Homo sapiens: one gene and its partners. The protein of the gene in region 2 binds, or shares a complex with, the protein of the main gene of each other region. Each region holds a gene or a part of one and is shown on either strand. Other genes may lie near its edges.

Region 1 (7,000 bases), on a different chromosome or scaffold from region 2:
TTGCCCATGCTGAAATGCAGTGATATGATTATAGCTCACTGCACCCTCAAAGGCTCAAGCGATTCTCCCATCTCAGCCTCCTAAGTAGCTGGTACTATAGGCTCACACCACCATGCCCAGCTAATTTATTATTATTATTATTTATTTTGTTTTGAGACGGAGTCTCACTCTGTCACCCAGGCTGGAGTGCTGTGGCATGATCTCGGGTCACTGCAACCTCCGCCTCCTGGGTTCAAGTAATTCTCATGCATCAGCCTCTCCAGTAGCTGGGATAACAGGCACACGCCACCACACCTGGCTAATTTTTGTATTTTGAGTAGAGACGGGGTTTCACCATGTTGCCCAGGCTAGTCTTGAACTCCTGACCTCAGGTGATGCACTCACCTCGGCCTCCCAAAGTGCTAGGATTACAGGCGTGAGCCACCATGCCCCCACCTTATTATTTTTTGTAGAGATGGAGTCTCACTATGTTGCCCAGGATGGTCTCAAACTCCTGGGCTCAAGCAATCTTCCTGCCTCGGCTTCCCAAAGCACTGGGATTCCAGACATGAGCCACTGTACCTGGCCCAATAACTTTACTTTTGTTATGGTTGAACATTCCTCAGAAATCGGTAACAAAGAGAAGCTAATTTTTGGATGCTTTAATTAAGGCAATGTATTAGTTGAGTTCTTTACAATTAAAATGCCATTGGAAATTCCTTTGGAATATTTGGCAAAACAAATTCAGTTTAGAGAAAAGTACATTTTGTACGTATGTATATTTTCTGGGGAGTGAGTTCATTTTATTTCCCAGATTTCCAGAGATGTGGTTACCCAGAAAATGTTAAGAACTGCTGTTTATAGCATTAAATGAACTAGTTATGCAACTGGTTAGCATACTGAGCATACAATAAAAACTCAACAAATGTTAATATTGAGTACTACTGTGTGCAAGGGAAGAGTGGAAGAGAAATGATGTCAAAGAATTAGGTAGAGGCTGAGTAAGATTTTATAGAGTGTGGTAGATACACATTCACAGATTTAGCTGGGAGGAACTTTAAGCTGGAGAGAGACACGAACTGATTGACGTTTAAAAAAATCAATTCTGGCCTCTTTATGGAGAATAGATTCCGGGGGTGTGAAGGGGAAAGGGTAAGAATGGGAGCAGAGAGATCTGTTAAGAGGCTGTTGAAGTAGTCCAAGAAAGAAGTGATGGTTCCTTGGGTTATTTGATTTCAGGGTGTATTCTGAAGGTAGAAACGACTAGATTTACTCATGGATTGGTTATGGAAGGGTGAAGGAAAAGAATGCATGAAGGATGACATCTGGGTTTTTGATCTGAGAATTGGAATTTATGGTAGTGTTATTTCTTGAGATGGGAGAAGATTGGGGGAATATGGTTTTGAAGATAATTAGGTTTAAAGTTTAAGTGGGGATTTTTTTTTTTTTTTTGAGACAGGATGTGGCTCTATCACCCAGGCTGGAGTGCAGTGGTGTGACCTTAGCTAACTGCAGCTGCCACCTCTGGGCTCAAGCCATCCTTCCACCTCAGCCTCCCAAGTAGCTGGGACTACAGGCTGACACCACCACACCTGGCTAATTTTTTTGCTTTTTGTAGAGATGGGTTTTCACTATGTTGGCCAGGCTGGTCTCAAACTCGTGAGCTCAAGCAATCCACCCACCTCGGCCTCCCAAAACTGCTGGGATTACAGGCGTGCACCACTGCATCTGGCCTTAAGCAGTTTTTTTATATGTAAATAGAGAGGGATTCAAATAACCACTTGGACATAAACCTTTGTAGTTCTTTAGAAAGGTTGGGAATGGAAATATAAATATGGAGTCATTGGCATACAGATGAAGATAAAAGTCCTCATGTTGAAATAGGGGAGTTCCCTAACCGCAGGACATACGACAGGGGTGTGGCTTGTCTGTGTGCACTCAATCCTCTTATGGGAGAGGGAGCACGCAGATGGGCAGGTGTAGGAGTCAGGGCGAGCACTTTTGGGCTCCAGCCCCACGGTAGCATCTAGGGGTGGGTGCCTGTGACTCCCAAAGCCCAAGTGGGCATGTATAACAGTGCACTCTTTTTTTTTTTTTTTTTTGAGATGGAGTCTTGCTTTGTTGCCCAGGCTGGAGTGCAGTGGTGTGATCTTGGCTCACTGCAACCTCCACCTCCCAGGTTCAAACGATTCTCCTGCCTCATCCTCCCCAGTAACTAGGATTACAGGTGTGTTCCCCCATGCCTGACCAATTTTTGTATTTTTAGTAGAGACAGGGTTTCACTATGTTGGCCAGGCTGGTCTTGAACTCCGGACCTCAAGTGATCCACCCATCTTGGCCTCCCAAAGTGCTGGGATTATAGGCATGAGGCACCCCACCTGCCCTGGTGTTTTTTGTTTGTTTGTTTGTTTGTTTTTTTGAGATGGCGTCTCATTCTGTTGCCTGGGCTGGAGTACAGTGGTGCAATCTTGGCTCACTGTAACCTCTGCCTCCCGGGTTTAAGCAATTCTCCTCCCTCAGCCTCCTGAGTAGCTGGGATTACAGGCGCCTGCTACCACACCCAGCTAATTTTTTGTATTTTTAGTAGAGACAGGGTTTCACCACGTTGGCCAGGCTGGTCTCAAACTCCTGACCTTGTGATTCACCCGTGTTGGCCTCCCAAAGTGCTGGGATTACAGGCATGAGCCACCATGTCCGGCTGGGGTTTTTTTTTGAAACACAGAAATTCTGCAACCAGCTTGATTGGTACTGCTCCTTTTTAAAGAGATTTTTAAAGAGTTACTTATTTTGTAAAGTTTTATTTATTTTGAAGCTAGTCAAATTTAGCAGTGGGGGGTTGTGTACAAACTTTAGTGACACTGAGATGAGGCTAGAGAAGGTAGAAACTGATGGTACCTGAGAAAGATGATATGCAAATGATGTCCTTGATAAAGCAAGAGAAGATGGCATCTAGAGTGCTATCAGAAGAGTCTGTTTCATGGAAGGAGAAACACTTAATTCATTGTAACTGGAGGAAAGCACAAGAGTATGAATGAAGATGCAGGTGGGTTCATTGATACTCATTTTTCTTAACACTCCCAATAAAATATCATTCCCATTCATAGATTGAAAGAGTGAGGTTTGGTAAGGGAGAATGATTTATTTGTATTCTATCACGGACCAGTGGCATCAATAGTTACAGAACTCATATCTCTAGACTTCCAGGTGAGTGTTCCAGTTTATGTCCTTTGAGATTGAAGTATCATATACATTAATGTGTTTCCTGTCTTCTTGGTTCATCTGGATGTTTTGTTCTAGGGACAGATCTGGAAGCATCTTTGCTAAGTTTTGAAAAACTTGACCGTGCCTCACCAGATCTTTGGCCAGAACAATGTAAGTTTTTGCCTTCTTTATATCAGAGTCAATGCAGGAGAAACAATGTTCCTTTTTAAAGAGATTTTTAAAGAGTTATTTATTTTGTAAATTTTTATTTATTTTGAAGCTAGTCAAATTTAGCAGTGGGGGGTTGTATACAAACTTTAGTGACACTAACGTTAATAAGTTCTGATAACAGGCTGAGCTTGTTGGCTCATGCCTGTAATCCCAGCACTTTGGGAGGCCGAGTTGGGAGGATCACCTGAGGTCAGGAGTTTGAGACCAGCGTGGCCAACATGGTGAAACCCTGTCTCTACTAAAAAAAAAATAGAAATATTAGCTGGATGTGGTGGCACACACCTGTAATCCCAGCTACTCAGGAGGCTGAGGCATGAGAATCTTTTGAACCCAGGAGGCGGAGGCTGCAGTGAGCAGAGATTGTGCCACTGCACTTCAGCCTGTGTGACAGGGTGAGACTCTGTCTCAAAAAAAAAAAAAAAAAAAAAAAAGTTCTGATAACCCATTACCATCAGACCAGGCTGAAGAGTTATCATTTAACTTTAATGATTAAAGTTTTATTTTATTTCAAAGAGAAGAGATTGAAGTCCAGTGTTAAGAATAGCTGTTTGGTGGTTTAATTTGTTCAGAACACAGTGTGACTCAGAAAATAAGGAGCCATTAAACAATAATAATTATTTTGTTTGAACCAGAGTCTCTCTCTGTCGCCCAGGGTGGAGTGCAGTGGTGCACTCGGGTCACTGCATCCTCTGCCTCAGGGTTCAAGCGATTGTCCTGCCTCAGCCTCCCAAGTAGCTGGGACTACAGGTGCATGCCACCATGCCCGGCTAATTTTTTGTATTTTTAGTAGAGACAGGGTTTCACCATGTTGGCCAGGCTGGTCTCGAACTCCTGACCTCAGGTGATCCACCTGCCTCAGCGTCCCAAAGTGCTGGGATTACAGGTGTGAGCCACCGTGCCTAGCCAACAATAATTATTATTATTATATATATGTATATATATATATATGTTTTTTTTAGACGGAGTTTCGCTCTAGTTGCCCAGGCTGGAGTGCAATTGCTCAGTGTTGGCTCACTGCAACCTCTGCCTCCCAGGTTCAAGCGATTCTCCTGCCTCGGCTCCCGAGTAGCTGGGATTACAGGCACATGCCGCAATGCCCGGCTAATTTTTTGTATTTTTAGTAGAGACAGGGTTTTGCCATGTTGGCCAGGCTGGTCTCAAACTCCTGATCTCAGGTGATCCACCCACCTCGGCCTCCCAGAGTGCTGGGATTACAGGCGTGAGCCACCATGGCTGGCCATTAATTACTTTTTAAAACTACATTTATAGGCTGGGCATGGTGGTTCATGCCTGTAGTCCCAGCACTTTGGGAGGCCAATGCGGGTGGATCACTTGAGGCTAGGAGTTTGAGACCAGCCTCGCCAACATGGCGAAACCCTGTCTCTATCAAAAATACAAAAATTAACTGGCCGTGGTGGTGCACACCTGCTATCCCAGCTACTCAGGAGGCTAAGGCACGAGAATTGCCTGAACCCGGGAGGCGGAGGTTGCAGTGAGCCAAGATTGCACTATTGCACTCGAGCCTGGGCAACAGAGAAAGACTCTTTCTCAAAAAAATCCCCCAAACTACACTTATTTGTTTGTTTGTGTATTTATTTATTTGAGATGGAGTCTTGCTCATGTCGCTCAGGCTGGAGTGCAATGGTGCAATCTCGGCTCACTGCAACGTCCGCCTCCCTGGTTCAAGCGATGCTCCTGCCTCAGCCTCCCGAGTAGCTGAGATTATAGGTGCCCGCCACAATGCTCAGCTAATTTTTGTATTTGTAGTACAGACGGCTTTTCACCAAGTAGGTTGGTCTTGAACTCCTGACCTCAGGTGATCCGCCCACCTCGGCCTCCCAAAGTGCCGAAATTTCAGGAGTGAGCCACCACAGCCAGCCCCCAAAACTACATTTATAAGAAATTCACATAATACTGAGATATATAAAGCGTTTTCTCACCTTTTTCAATCACTCTTTTTTTTTTTTTTTTTTTTGAGATGGAGTTTCACTCTTGTTCCCCAGGCTGTGCAGTATAATGGTGCAGTCTTGGCTCACAGCAACCTCTGCTTCCGGGTTCAAGCAATTCTCCTGCCTCAGCCCCCCAAGTAGCTGGGATCACAGGTGCATGCCACCACACCTGGCTAATTTTTGTATTTATAGTAGAGAAGAGGCTTCACCATGTTGGACAGGCTGGTCTTGAACTCCAGACCTCAGATGATCTGCCTGCCTCAGCCTCCCAAAGTGCTAGTATTAGAGGCCTGAACCACTGCACCTGGCCCACTCTTATAACGTTAACCACTGTTAATCGTACAAATCCTTGTAAAAGGTACAACTCCGGCCAGGTGTGATGGCTCACGCCTGTAATCCAAGCACTTTGAGAGGCCGAGGTGGGCGGATTACCTGAAGTCAGGAGTTTGAGATCAGCCTAGCTAACATGGCGAAACCCCGTTTCTACTAAAAATACAAAAAATTAGCTGAGCGTGGTGGCACATGCCTGTAATCCCAGCTACTTGGGAGGCTGAGGCAGGAGAATCGCTTGAACCCGGGAGGCAGAGGTTGCAGTGAGCAGAGATTGCAGTGAGCTGAGATCACTCCATTGCACTCCAGGTTGAGCAACAAGAGTGAAACTCTGTCTCAAAAAAAAAAAAAAAGGTACAAATCCTTTTGACCTATTTTATACAGATAAGGAAATAATAATTTTTTAAGTATGTATAAGAGGGATTTTTTTTTTCTTCATAATGTTGGAGTCATATGCATGTGGCCTGCCACTTAACTTACTCCACATGTGAACAGTTCCATCTTGGTATGTGTATGTCTACTTCATTCTTTTAAATATATTTCATTGTATGGATATATTATAGTTTATGTATTCATACATTATTTGGAAACTTAAGTTATATCTACTTTGTAGTTTTTTTTTTTTTTTAATTTGAGCAAGGGTCTCACTCTGTCACCCAGGCTTTGTGCAGTGGCGTGATCACAGCTGACTGCAGCCTCAACCTCCTGGGCTCAAGTGATCCTCTCACTTCAGCCTCCTGAGTAGCTGGGACCACAGGCATGTACCACCACAACCAGCTATTTAAAAAATTTTGGGGGGGACAAGATCTCACTGTGTTGCCCAGACTGGTCTCAGACTCCTGGGCTCAGGCTGTCTTTCCACCTTGGCCTCCCAGAGCACTGGGATTACAGGTGTGAGGCACTGTGCCTGGCCTATATCTAGTTTTTGACTTTACAGACAGTTTATCAGTGAATACCCATGTACACATATCTTCATATACATGGAAGAGGATAACTGTATGAGGGCCCCTTTCCTCACATACTAGCCAGTATTAGATGTTACTAATCTATTAGTTTCATTTTACATTTCCTTTTTGGTGAGATTGAACTTTTTTTTTTTTGAGATGGAGTCTCGCTCTGTTGCCCAGGTTGGAGTGCAATGGCGTGATCTCAGCTCACTGCAACCTCCACCTCCCGGGTTCAAGCAATTCTCCTGCCTCAGCCTCCTGAATAGCTGGGACTACAGGCACATGCCGCCACACCCAGCTAATCTTTTGTATTTTAGTAGAGACGGGGTTTCACTGTGTTGCCCAGGCTGGTCTCCAACTCCT
Region 2 (5,357 bases):
GTCCTAGTCTTCAATGTCTGGCTCCCAAAAGGGGAAAGAGAAAAATGAAGGAACAGAGGTCGGGGTAGAAAGCTGAAATGGACCAAAATTAACTGCAATGTGCTGACCAAGCCTCCCTTGAAAGCTTTAAGCCTTCAGTAGATTCCGTAGTTACAGAACAGCTGCATCAGGCAGATCCTGCCCGCGAGGTAGACATCTACCTGGGCAGCCAGATTCCTGGTGCTCCCTATTCCACCATCTTCCCAGAATCCTCTCAATCTTATTCTTGTTCTCAAAGTCAAACTTTTAAATTTTGTCTCAATTTTCATTGTGAAAAAAGGCCAAGGAACTTGGCTTATCTTTCTCTGCACCACAGGCACCGAAAAGGAAGGTGCCTCTTTGCCCTGTGTCCACCAAGACCTCCACCCTTGGCCACCTTCCACCTTTTCAGGGTGGGCTCCCGGAGGATGTGCCTCAGACAACATGTGGTGGTGGGGTTTGCACCCACAGGGACCACCCGGGCCCACCGCGTCTGGGCCTAACAACCTACTTTCTCACTCAAGTATAAAGTAAAACCAACAAGACAGACAAATTTCTAGATAATAATCCTGAATTAGAGAAACACAGCTTGTTTAAAATGCCCATGCGCGTTTTATTAATAAAAACTAACAGTGCCAAGTTAAACAAGTCAAACAATTAAAGTCTCTTTATATACCATAAAATATTACAGAAAAGTTTATTTGTGTTTCAATAAAAAGACTATCGTTTTAGAACAGGCAGCTAATAGCAACTGTGCAGTTAATGGGTTTTGTGAATAAATTTTAAAAGAGACTACTGCCTGTCCTTAAATTCCTTTTTCTTTTTATAAAAAAAGAACTATTAAAAATGATTGACAAATTTTGAGTTAAAAAATTGTTAAAACATTCTCTATATTTAATTTCAATTTTATAATAGATTACAGGAAGATGCTTATGAAACAAATACATTTGTTTCAGTACATGTCTTTAAATGATAGACTTATAAGTATGTAAACAACTATATAATAAAAGGTTTCCAAACGCTGCCTGTAAGAAATCAGGCAAATTTTACCATAAGCAATAAACCATTCCAAGCCTTCCAGACAGTCTCCATAGCCGCACCAGCATGGCAATAAGCTTTAACCAAACGAAAACAAACAAACAAAAGCACTTCGCAATTTGTTGCTGCAAAACAGGGAGAGAAAAGAGTGTACAAACTTGATGGAATCACAACAGTCAATATAATTTAAGGGACAATAAAGTCAATAAGGTTGATGGTGTTTATTGTTTAAAAAGTTGAATTCTGCTGTTTGCTTGGGGCTGTTTAGAAAGTTGCATTCTGCTGTTTGCTTGGACACCGTACCACTGAACAAACTCCACAGAGTCTTGCTATCCGCCAGCAGGGGTGCCGTCCAAACTCACGGCAAATAAGCGGCATCAGGGGCTCACCATCCACAACAGGAGGTGTTTTATTTTCATGGATGTGGTTGAAATACAATTTCTTCAGCAAACTCAGCAAAAACTTTTCAGGGGCAAAAATGAACTCTGCACTTAAAGAAAAATAGCAAATGAAAACACAAAATCCTAACAAGTAAATAAACGCTCTGCATCAGCACACTGGTATCAAAACACACATCCACAGCACGTCCTAATCCTACGGGAAACAATCCTTGCTTATCAGAGGTGCATATCTAAATTCAATAGCTTACCAATATCTTCTTGGGAGTAGGCCAAAAGGAAACAGAAAACCCACATTAAAAAAAAAGTTTCTTTTCGCTAAACGTTTTCCTGAAGCCGAATCTGAAGTGGGGAGGACGTCAGTCGTCCTCGTCATTCTCGTTGAAGTCATCGTCCTCCTCGTCGTCCTCCCCGACGTAGGACACCGGAGTCTCCACCCTGGAGCCGCTGTACTGAGACCCATTGGAGCTTGTGGCCAGCATCCCATCTGCACCGTTGGTCAGGTCACTGCAAGGCAGGAGGCGGATGGCGCCGTCAGTGCAGGCGGCCCACCCAGCCTCCCCCCGCCTCAGGGCTTGTGGTCAAATGACAGGCTGTGCCCCACAGGTGTGGGTTTTGTCAGTCACACAAACAGAACGGGGAGGCTGAGTGTCTGCACTACAGCACGCCAACGCTCTGGCACTTACTCCATCTCTGTCTGGTTCTCTTCTGGCCCTGTCTCCTGGAACCCATAACGACAGAAACAGGAGGCTGAGCAGAGCCACACGCTGCCTCTCCCTCACTCATCATTCCATCAGGAGCAGTGCCCCAGAGGGAACAAACTGTAAAACCATTAGATCCCTCCCTCCGGGACTTTCACTCATAACCAGCAACAGGAAAAAAGAGAGCCCGGGGCAGGACAGGATGGAGTCCAGAGCGTGGGTCGAATCTGGCAGCGGGGACTGAGAACCCAGAGGGCTGGCAGCACCACAAAAACCTACCACCAACCAGAGCTCACTACGTTCCTAATGTTTAAAGATGTTTTCAATTAACATAAAACCATATGTACATATTTTAATACATTTTAATGGTATTTATTAACACTACAATAAAAATGTGTTAATGTGCCTTTTGATGAAGTAATTCTGTATCTTGGAAACAAGTCAGAAATGGCGAGAAATTCAGCTGTAAAGCTGCTCACTGCAGTTTTTATTCTAACTGGGAACTACCTAGATGTCCTTTCATGAGGTACTTGTATAAAATGTCTCATCATGCCACTATGAAAATCGGTATTTCGTAAGAAATGGTAATAGCTTTGTTTCCATTGTTATGAAAAACTGACAAGTCTGAAGAATCACATCCATAAAAAGGATTATGTGATGATAAAAGTCCTAAAAATACCCACATCCCACCTCATGGAAGAAGCAGCATTAAACATGTTTACAGACTGACCGCCACACGTTCACACATAGCTACAACAGAAGGAGAACCGGCCTCTGTCAAAAGCTTGTCACCAAAGTCCTTTCTTCCATCACCACCTCACTGATCCTTGCCACAGATCAGTAACTCATCAATCACCAGTCTCACCTTACAGGTGAGGAGGCCAAGGCTGGCTTTGCACTTCCAGAGCTGGCCAGGAAGCTACACGTGCCCGACACACCTGTTACATCTCATGGCCACAGCACATCCCAACGCAGGCTCAAGCACACTGAAACTCACTATGTCGAGCCCTGTTACCCGGACCCATAGGTTACTGAGTTCTTGTATTTCTAATTAAAGATTTTATTAACACTTAAGATTAATATAAAGTAATACTATATATTGTATCACAATGCAATATAAAAGTTAATAAAATCATTGTTTTGTTAATATTTACCATAAAAGTTATATTTATCTTTGAAGCACTAAGATCAATACCTAGGGACACCATTCTACTCTGTGGGATTGCAGGTCAAAGATTAAATACAAATTTATTTAAATAAAGGCCCTTTAATAGCATAGAAACAATATATATTCATACAATAAAATGTAAGCTGAAAAATGCACGGAACAAAATATGTGTGCTGTGACCACAGACGCGTTCTGAAAAATACGTGCGCTGTGATTGCAGACGCGTTCTGAAAAATACGTGTACCATAATCACAGACGCGTTCGCAAAAATACATGCACTGTGATCGCAGCACGTGCGCCGAGACCGCAGACGCGTTCTGAAAAACACGTGCGCCGTGATGGCAGACGTTCTGAAAAATACATGCGCTATGACCATAGATGCATTCTGAAAAACACATGCACCATGACCGCAGATGCGTTCTGAAAAATGTGTGCTGTGATCGCAGACACGTTCTGAAAACTACTTGCGCCCAGACCGCAGACGCGTTCTGAAAAATACGTGCGCTGTGACCGCAGACGCGTTCTGAAAAATGGGAAAAAAAACCTGGAAATACTTGCTGTTACTTGGGCTGCCGGGGACAGGAGGATTTGGGTGGTTTTCATTCCTACTTTACTTATTAGGTGATACTATGAAAAAAAAACCACCATGTATTACTTTCAGTTTTTAGTGAGCAGAAACCAACTAAGAAAAGCAGCTCTCCACACAGGGAAAGCCAGCGGGGCCCCACTGCCTGGACAGACAAGCCACGTCAGAGCAGCCACAGACCTGATGGCCACACCTGAGACGGCTGCCCTGCCTTGGCCCCTGGACCCCGGGGGAGGCCCAGATGACGCCTCTCCCACACCCTCAACGACTGTCACCTGGCAGAGAACCTTGTGCCGTTAGACGTGGAACCTGCCGTCGTGATGAACACGCCTCCAACAGTTCCCTGAGCCATTTCTGAAAAGGGAAAGAAAATAAGCGAATGGTCATGAAACAGAAACAACACAAGACGCACAGGCAACCAACAAAATGACGCGCAGTTCCACAGGACAGACGGCTGTAGAAGCTTCCGGATATCCTTCGCTTGTCCAGTATTTTCCACACTGCGCCACGGAGCAGGACATCCCGCTGTGCAGTCACATAAGCCTGTCTTCTCTAAAAAGGCAAGAACAGCCTTGCAATAAATACCTGCACACACTGACTTACAAACGGCACACGTGTGCTGCTGCCTCAGTATCATACCCATCGTGAAACGGAACCGAATCAAAGTGTCAAGCTGAAACCCTCTTCCCACAGCCCATCCTGGCAGCTCCATGAAGCACGGGACAGAGGCCGGGGTCAGGGCCCAGCCCACGTGGGCGGCCAGAGCCCACTGTCACCTGACAACATGGACCAGCCAGATTTTCACAAGATCTGGGGCAGTCTAAGAGCTCAGGGAGGAATCTCTGACCCTCTCAGGGAATAAATCTACACCCCAAGTTTAGGCTAACAAGAGAAGGATCAGCAGATATGACACCTTCACAATTTCTCACCTTAAAGCCATCCTGCTGTCAGTGGCTGGGACCCTACGGCCCCCAAGGAAAGAATTCACCAGAACAGAAAAAAAGCTCCTTCAACAAAAGCTCCTGTGCTCCCGGCCCTCCGGAGCAGGACGCCAATGACTCTGAAATGCTTTTTCTTGGTGACTTTGCCCTAGTGACCAATCAGCTACCATCAGTGGGTGGGATCAGCAATCCAACTGCACTTCTCAAAGAATCTCAACTTCTACTTCTGGGCCTACTTGGAGGGTAAAATCCTGACTTAGCACCTCCTCACACAAACCACATAGGAAATCCACACGAGCCACCTGTGGACTCAAGGCCCCCATATCCAGTGGGTCACGGCACTGGCTGGACCCCACCCCAGCCACACCCCTGCCCTCATCCCCCTCACAGCCCCTTTGTCTTTGCTCCTGGCCCTACACACGTGGGCCTGATCTCAGCAAGACACATCCCGAGCCGGGAGGGGAGGGCACCGTCGGAGGCTGGGGGCCATTCCTCACACAGCCACGC
Region 3 (7,000 bases), on a different chromosome or scaffold from region 2:
AGATTCCCTCTAACAATTTGAATCTATTTTCCCATACCCAACAGGCGGGTCCTTAATATAGTTTTATATTCGATGAGCTGCTAATACCCTATATACCCTATTTAAAAATCTGGGTCAATAATGTAGTAGAAAGAAATAACACTTTTTGTGATAAGAATATTTTATAGTAATTTGGTTATTTATGCTAAACATCTCCTCACTTATAAATTTTTTCTTTTTTCTTCTTTTTACATTTAATTTTTTTTTTTCTCCTGAGAATGGTCACTGAGGGAAAACAAAGAAAAACAAAGTTATTTTTCTAAATGCAGTGTGGTATCCTGAATTGGTTTCTGGAACAGAAAAAGGATGTTGGTGAAAAAACTGGTAAAATCCAAATAAAGCCTGTAGTTTAGTTAATAGTATTGCACTAGTTTTGACAAATATACCAAAGTTACTATAAGATATTGATGTTAGGGAAAGCCAGGTGAAGGGCATGTGGGAATATGTACTATCTTTGCAACTTGCCTGTAAATCTACAACTTTTCCAAAATACAAAGTTTATAATAAAAATTTTAAAATTTTGACCCTAACTTACCATTCCAATATGTACTTCCCTCATACAGTGGCAGCCACTATAATTAGTTTGATTATCCTTATGAAACCTTTTAAATATACTTTTAATGTATTCATAGAAAATATTTAATATTGTTAAATGTATATATATTTTTTCTTTTTCTAAATGTATGTATTCTAAAAATTACATTTGTAGTATCATTTTCATGGTATTGTGCCATGTGTCATTCTGTAATTTTTTCACTGTCTTTTTTTGAGATCTGGCCATGTTGATTGATTGAGATAATCGGATTCAGTGTTTCATTTCTTTTTACTATTGAATAGTATTCAATTTTATATCATTATTTATAAATTCTCCCATTTGGGAGCATTTAAATTGTTCGTAAATTTTTACTTTGACAAATAATGCTGCAGTGAACATCCTGAGCATGTTTGTATAAATTTGCAAGTTTTTTTCTAGGACAGATGCCTAAGATGTGGAATTGCTGGATCGTAAATTATGTACATTTAAAGTTTTTAAAGCAGTACCAAATACTCTCCGAATAAATTGAACTGGGACCATGCACAGTGGCTCACACCTGTAATAGCAGCACTTTGGGAGGCCGAGGTGGGCAGATCACCTGAGGTCAGGAGTTCAAGACCAGCCTGGCCAACATGGCAAAACCCCATCTCTACTAAAAATAGAAAAATTAGCCAGGTGTGGCGGCACGTGCCTGTAGTCCCAGCTACTCGGGAGGCTGAGGCATGAGAATAGGTTGAACCTGGGAGGCGAAGGCTGCAGTGAGCCGCGATCGTGTCAGTATGCTGCAGCCTAGGTGACAGAGCAAGACGCTGTGTTAAAAAATTTTTTTAAAAAAAGGAAAGAAATTGTACTGGTTTATATATATTAGAGTTCCTATTTTCCAAATGCCTCCAACTCAGTACAGAACCAACCATCTAGATTTTTGCTAATCTGATATATAGAAATAGCCTTGGCCGGGTGCGGTGGCTTACGCCTGTAATCCCAGCACTTTGGGAGGCCGAGGTGGGCGGATCACGAGGTCAGGAGATCAAGACCACCCTGGCTAACACGGTGAAACCCCGTCTCTACAAAAAATACAAAAAATTAGCCGGGCGTGGTGGCGGGCGCCTGTAGTCCCAGCTACTCGGGAGGCTGAGACAGGAGAATGGCGTGAACCCGGGAGGTGGAGCTTGCAGTGAGCCGAGATCGTGCCACTGCACTCCAGCCTGGGCAACAGAGCGAGACTCCATCTCAAAAAAAAGAAAAAAAAAAAAAAAAGAAATAGCCTCTCACTTGTTTTAGTTGGCATTTTATATAAGAGCAAAGTTGAGACACTTTTCATATGTTTAAAAATTATTTCTTTCCTTTTCTGTAAACTGTTTATGCCTTTTTCCCATTTTTCTATTGGATTGTGGGTCATTGTGTTACTAGTTTATAAGAATTTTGTATATATTAAAAATATTGGCCCTTTGGATGTTTATAATGGCTGTAATTTTTTTTAGAGTTTATAGTTTGTCTTTTGATTTGTTTCTGTATTTTTTAACATATGGGATTTTAAAATATTTTAAGGATCAAATGTAACTTTGTTACCTTTTAATGACTTCTTGAGTTTGTCATGCTCAGAAAGACCTTTTCTACACTAAAATTTATCATTTTAGAATTCTCTCATATTTCATTTTTTTGGTTTGAACCTTCAGTACATCTGGAATTTATTTTGCAGTAAGGGATGAAGTAAAATTGCAACCTAGCTTTCCCACCCCCCCCCACCCCCCCCCCCGGAGGACTACTTAGTTGTCCTAGTAACATTTATTGGGTAATCCATCTTTTTAAACATTGATTTAAAATGCTGCCTTCATCAAAGCTAAATTCGTATAAGTATTTGGGATTACTTTCAGGCTTTCTATCTCTACATCTAGCATATCTCTATATGTGCTAGTATCAAATTATTTTGGCTGGGCATGGCAGCTCATACCTGTAATCCTAGCTCTTTGGGAGGCTGAGGCAGGAAGATCGCTTGAGCCCAGGAGTTTGGGACCAACCTGGTAACATAGCGAGAGCCCGTCTCCACAAAAAATGCATGAATTAGCCCAGTGTGGTGGCACATGCCTGCAGTCCCAGCTACTTGGGAGGTTCAGGTGGGAGGATGGCTTGAGCCCAGGAGGTCAAGGCTGTAGTGAGCAATGTTTGCACCACTGCACTTCAGCCTAAGTGACAGAGAGAGAGACCCTGTCTCAAAAGAACAAACAAAACCAAAACACACACACACACACACACACAAAATTGGTTTAACATGACTTTATACTGTGTTTTAATGCCTGGTAAGATATTATCACATATTCTTTTTTTGAGATTTTTTTCCTTTTCTTTCTTTTTTTTTGACATGGAGTCTCACTCTGTCGCCCAGGCTGGAGTGCAGTGGTGTGATCTCTGCTCACTGCAACCTCCGCCTCCCAGGTTCAAGCTAGTCTTCTGCCTCAGCCTCCTGAGTAGCTGGCACTACAGGCACAGCCACCACGCCCGGCTAATTTTTGTATTTTTAGTAGAGATGGGGTTTCACTATATTGGCCTGGCTGTCTGGAGCTCCTGACCTTGTGATCCGCCCATCTCGGTCTCCCAAAGTGCTGGGATTACAGGCGTGAGCCACTGCGCCCAGCATAAGATTTTTTCCTAAATATTTTTGTGCATTTATTTTTCCATGTAGACTTTAGAATCAACTTGACTAGGAAAAAAAAATCCTGTTGGCATTTTGACTGGGATTGGACTAATATTATAATTTATGGGAAATGATATATATAGGTAACATTGAGACTACCTAAGAACTGATTGTAGTTCCACTTAGTTCATAGTATTTCACAGTAGACTTAATTTTTTTCCATATCAGTCTTGCATGTTTCGTAAGTATATTCCTACATATTTAATTTTTTTGTTTATGTCCATTTTTGTGCTGTTATAAACAGGATATAAACTCTTATGGCCTGTCCAGTTATTATTTACATATAGTGATTTTTTTGAATCATGGTTTTTGTATATCAACTTTGTATTTACCCATTTCATTAAATTTTCTTACTGTTTTTAATTGTTACAGTTGATTTTCTTGAGTTTTCACCTACAAGGAAATGGTAGTTTTATCTTCTTTCTAAATTTTATTCTTCTTACCTGATTGGCCAATTCCTTCAAAACAGTGTTATGAAATAGTGGTGGTAGTTGAAATCTTTGTCATACTAGGTTAGTGGTGGTAGTTGAAATATTTGTCGTTCTCATCGTCTTTTAATATTACGATACTGGTTTTTGGGTTGGAGTGGGGAGAAATGTTTTATTAGGTTAAAAAAGTATCCATCTAAGCTGGGCGCTGTGGCTCACACCAGTAATCCCAGCACTTTGGGAGGCTGAGGCAGGCAGATTACCTGAGGTCAGGAGTTTGAGACCAGCCTGGCCAACATGGTGAAACCCCATCTCTACTAAAAATACAAAAATTAGCTGGGTGTGGTGGCGTGCGCCTGTAGTCCCAGCTACTTGGGAGGTTGAGACAAGAGAGTAGCTTGAACCCGGGAGGCAGAGGTTGCAGTGAGCCGAGATTGTGCCACTGCATTCCAGCCTGGGCAACAGAGCAAGACTGTCAAAAAAAAAAAAGGCAATAATCAAAAATAATCGGAGTGTTTAAAACAGCAACAAAATTCCATGTTGAATATCAGTGAATCAGTGAACCTTTTTAAGTACTTAAACATAATTTACCTTTTGCAAATTTATTCAGGGTTATAAATGTTCATTTTTACTTAATGGAGCCATAAATTAATCTCTTTTTTTTATTGTATAGAAATTTACAGCAACAATGTCAACACCAGATAAGAAAGCTTCACAGAAGATTGGTTTTCGATTACGTAATCTGCTCAAGCTTCCTAAAGCACATAAATGGTGTATATACGAGTGGTTCTATTCAAATATAGATAAGTATGTATCATGGCTTATATTATGAATATTACTTGAATCAGAAATTTAAGTTTTTCAAGTGTTTTAAGCTACAACATTTTCTATAGGTCTACTTTGATCTTATTTTTCTCTAAATTCATTTTTCTGTTCCACATTCCAGTTGGATCTATTCTATTTGTCATAGTTTTCTTCCCTGTTATCCTTTTTGGGGAAGAAAACTGTACATTTTTGTGAAGAATTGATTACGGTATAATTTCTGTGTTAGAATTCTTAAAGACTATGGAGTAGAGATACCTTAAAACACCATTATTTGCAGTGAATGAGATTCATTTTATAATTGAGATGTTAAGTGCTGGTATAATCATAGAGAAACCATTACTAATGGTAAAAATGGCTTAAGATTTTTAAGAGGGTAGTCTTTCTAGTTTGGATGTGGTACTTAAGCACGCTAGGTATACACATATGCTTAAGTATGACGTAGTATGAGATTTGGCTGAAATACAATTATTCAACAATGGAATTTACTGAGGAAAAGTTCTTATTTATAATCCTTCCTCATATGCCAGTCATTGCTGCTTGCTCTGCTGGATATTTATATTTTCTTCCCTTCTCTGTTTTCTATACCAATTGCCTACTCTGGAGCTTGTGAATCTCATGAATGTTCATATTTGAGCCCAAGGCATTTATGTATCATTGCCAACACTGGTTCCTGGTTTCCCAGACTCATGAATAGAATTGTTTTATTTTTGTCCATAGGCTTAAGAGAGTTTTCAGGGTGTCTCAGTGTAATCTGAGTTCTTCTGGGATCCCCCAAGCTAATCTAACCCTCTGGAGTCCTCCAGTGTCCCAAGACTGGTTTAATTCCAAAGAGGACTCCTTGGTGATGGTATTCCTTTGGGACAAAGATACTTTGTAGCTAACTTGGTTTATCTTCACCTGATACAAGGCCAGGGCCACGATAGCCTCCCAAAGGATATACCTGTATAAGAGATTGAACAAAAATCAGTGTCTCTTGGAATCACAACACAAATAATATTTCCTGAGCAACTTTTACACGACATTAGATGTTTCACAAATGCCAAGGATTTAGTTTTAGCACTTTGAATTTGTGCCAGTTTATATATATATATGGGGTAGAAGTGAAAGTTTAGCATTTTGTGATTTTATGTGTTTTAAGAAAGTAACACATTGTATGTAACCATTAAAATACTATATCTGTTTTACAGACCACTTTTTGAAGGTGATAATGACTTCTGTGTATGTCTAAAGGAATCTTTTCCTAATTTGAAAACAAGAAAGTTAACAAGAGTAGAATGGGGAAAAATTCGGCGGCTTATGGGAAAACCACGGAGGTAAAAATAATGTTTTTGTTTTTGTTTAAAATAAAATCAAGCCAGTAGCAGTGCATGTACTTATAATCCCAGTTACTTGGAAGGCTAAGATGGGGTATTTGCTTAAGGCCAGGGGTTCAGGGCTGTAGTATGCTGTGATTACACCTGTGAATAGTCACTGCACTCTAGCCTGGGCAACACAGTGAGACCATTCCTCTAAAAAAGAATTAAAAAATAAAATCAATAAATAATAGTTGTTAGTATCATTAGTACATTGATTTTTTTAATCTTTAAAATGACTAGTACCAAAACATAACTTTTCAGAATAATTGATTATATGTTAAATATATCCTGTTAACCAACTTTAATGTAGGTGCTGTTTATACGTATGCATCTTATAATTAAATGCACAATTTCATTTTTGTTAGGATCACAGGTTTTCAACGTAATTTTTTAGTTTTACATTATCTATGTCCCTCTGTGTTCCAAAAAATATTTAAGAATGTCCTAAAAAGTATTTAAGGATGCTGTAAAGTTCTGTGTACATTTTTGTTATCTTTTGTGAAATCCTTTATAATCTCAGGAGCCTTCCCAGAAGTGCCTATTTTATTTTATATAAAAGTAGAAAACAAATTAATCTATCTAATATGTTACTTCCTGAGAATTGCTCTTCATGTGAAATGATTTTTTCTTTTCCAGTGTTATCCTGGTAACACATTGGAAAACCTTATATTACTTTTGAGTGAAAATTGGAAATATGTTAGAAGAATAATTAGATCATTAGTTCTCACATTATGTCTATCTGCCTGGTAAAAAGTATGTGCAAGACTTTTTCATTTTAAATGGTGGGAAAGTTCAAGGAAGGTCTGTAAATATAAAGTGATTTGGACAAATAGAAATGGAATTTAGATTTAATGATTTCTTTAGATGGTGATGAAATACAGAGAGAACTTTTAATTAAACTGTCATCAAGATGACCTTGATGATGATGTTTTTAATATTTCTTATAATAACAAAATTAAAATTTGATATGTTATTTAGTGTGTTTCATACTCATAATTTATGGCCTTTGGTAATTACAGTAGCCATTTGGTGACTTTTTGCTATCATTTTGCGTGTTTGAGCAAATTGAGTTACACTGTTTCTAATTATTGTCCATCAGAGTGGGATATTGGTCACTATTTACTGT

The links. The genes of interacting proteins can lie anywhere in the genome.
Region 1: TFDP1 (region 2) and LIN52 share a complex: the UniProt entries of both Homo sapiens proteins name them as parts of the DREAM complex.
Region 3: TFDP1 (region 2) and LIN9 share a complex: the UniProt entries of both Homo sapiens proteins name them as parts of the DREAM complex.

The regions. Positions count from the first base shown.
Region 1 is NC_000014.9:74,087,956-74,094,955, forward strand, and holds part of LIN52 (protein lin-52 homolog), read left to right. Parts: intron 1-3,276; coding exon 3,277-3,351; intron 3,352-7,000.
Region 2 is NC_000013.11:113,636,724-113,642,080, reverse strand, and holds the end of TFDP1 (transcription factor Dp-1), read right to left. Parts: intron 4,462-5,357; coding exon of another isoform or gene 4,264-4,461; coding exon 4,185-4,263; intron 1,962-4,184; coding exon 1,814-1,961; 3' UTR 608-1,813; downstream 1-607. UniProt on the Homo sapiens protein: Can stimulate E2F-dependent transcription.
Region 3 is NC_000001.11:226,285,165-226,292,164, reverse strand, and holds part of LIN9 (protein lin-9 homolog), read left to right. Parts: intron 1-4,367; coding exon 4,368-4,501; intron 4,502-5,706; coding exon 5,707-5,832; intron 5,833-7,000. UniProt on the Homo sapiens protein: Acts as a tumor suppressor. Inhibits DNA synthesis. Its ability to inhibit oncogenic transformation is mediated through its association with RB1. Plays a role in the expression of genes required for the G1/S transition.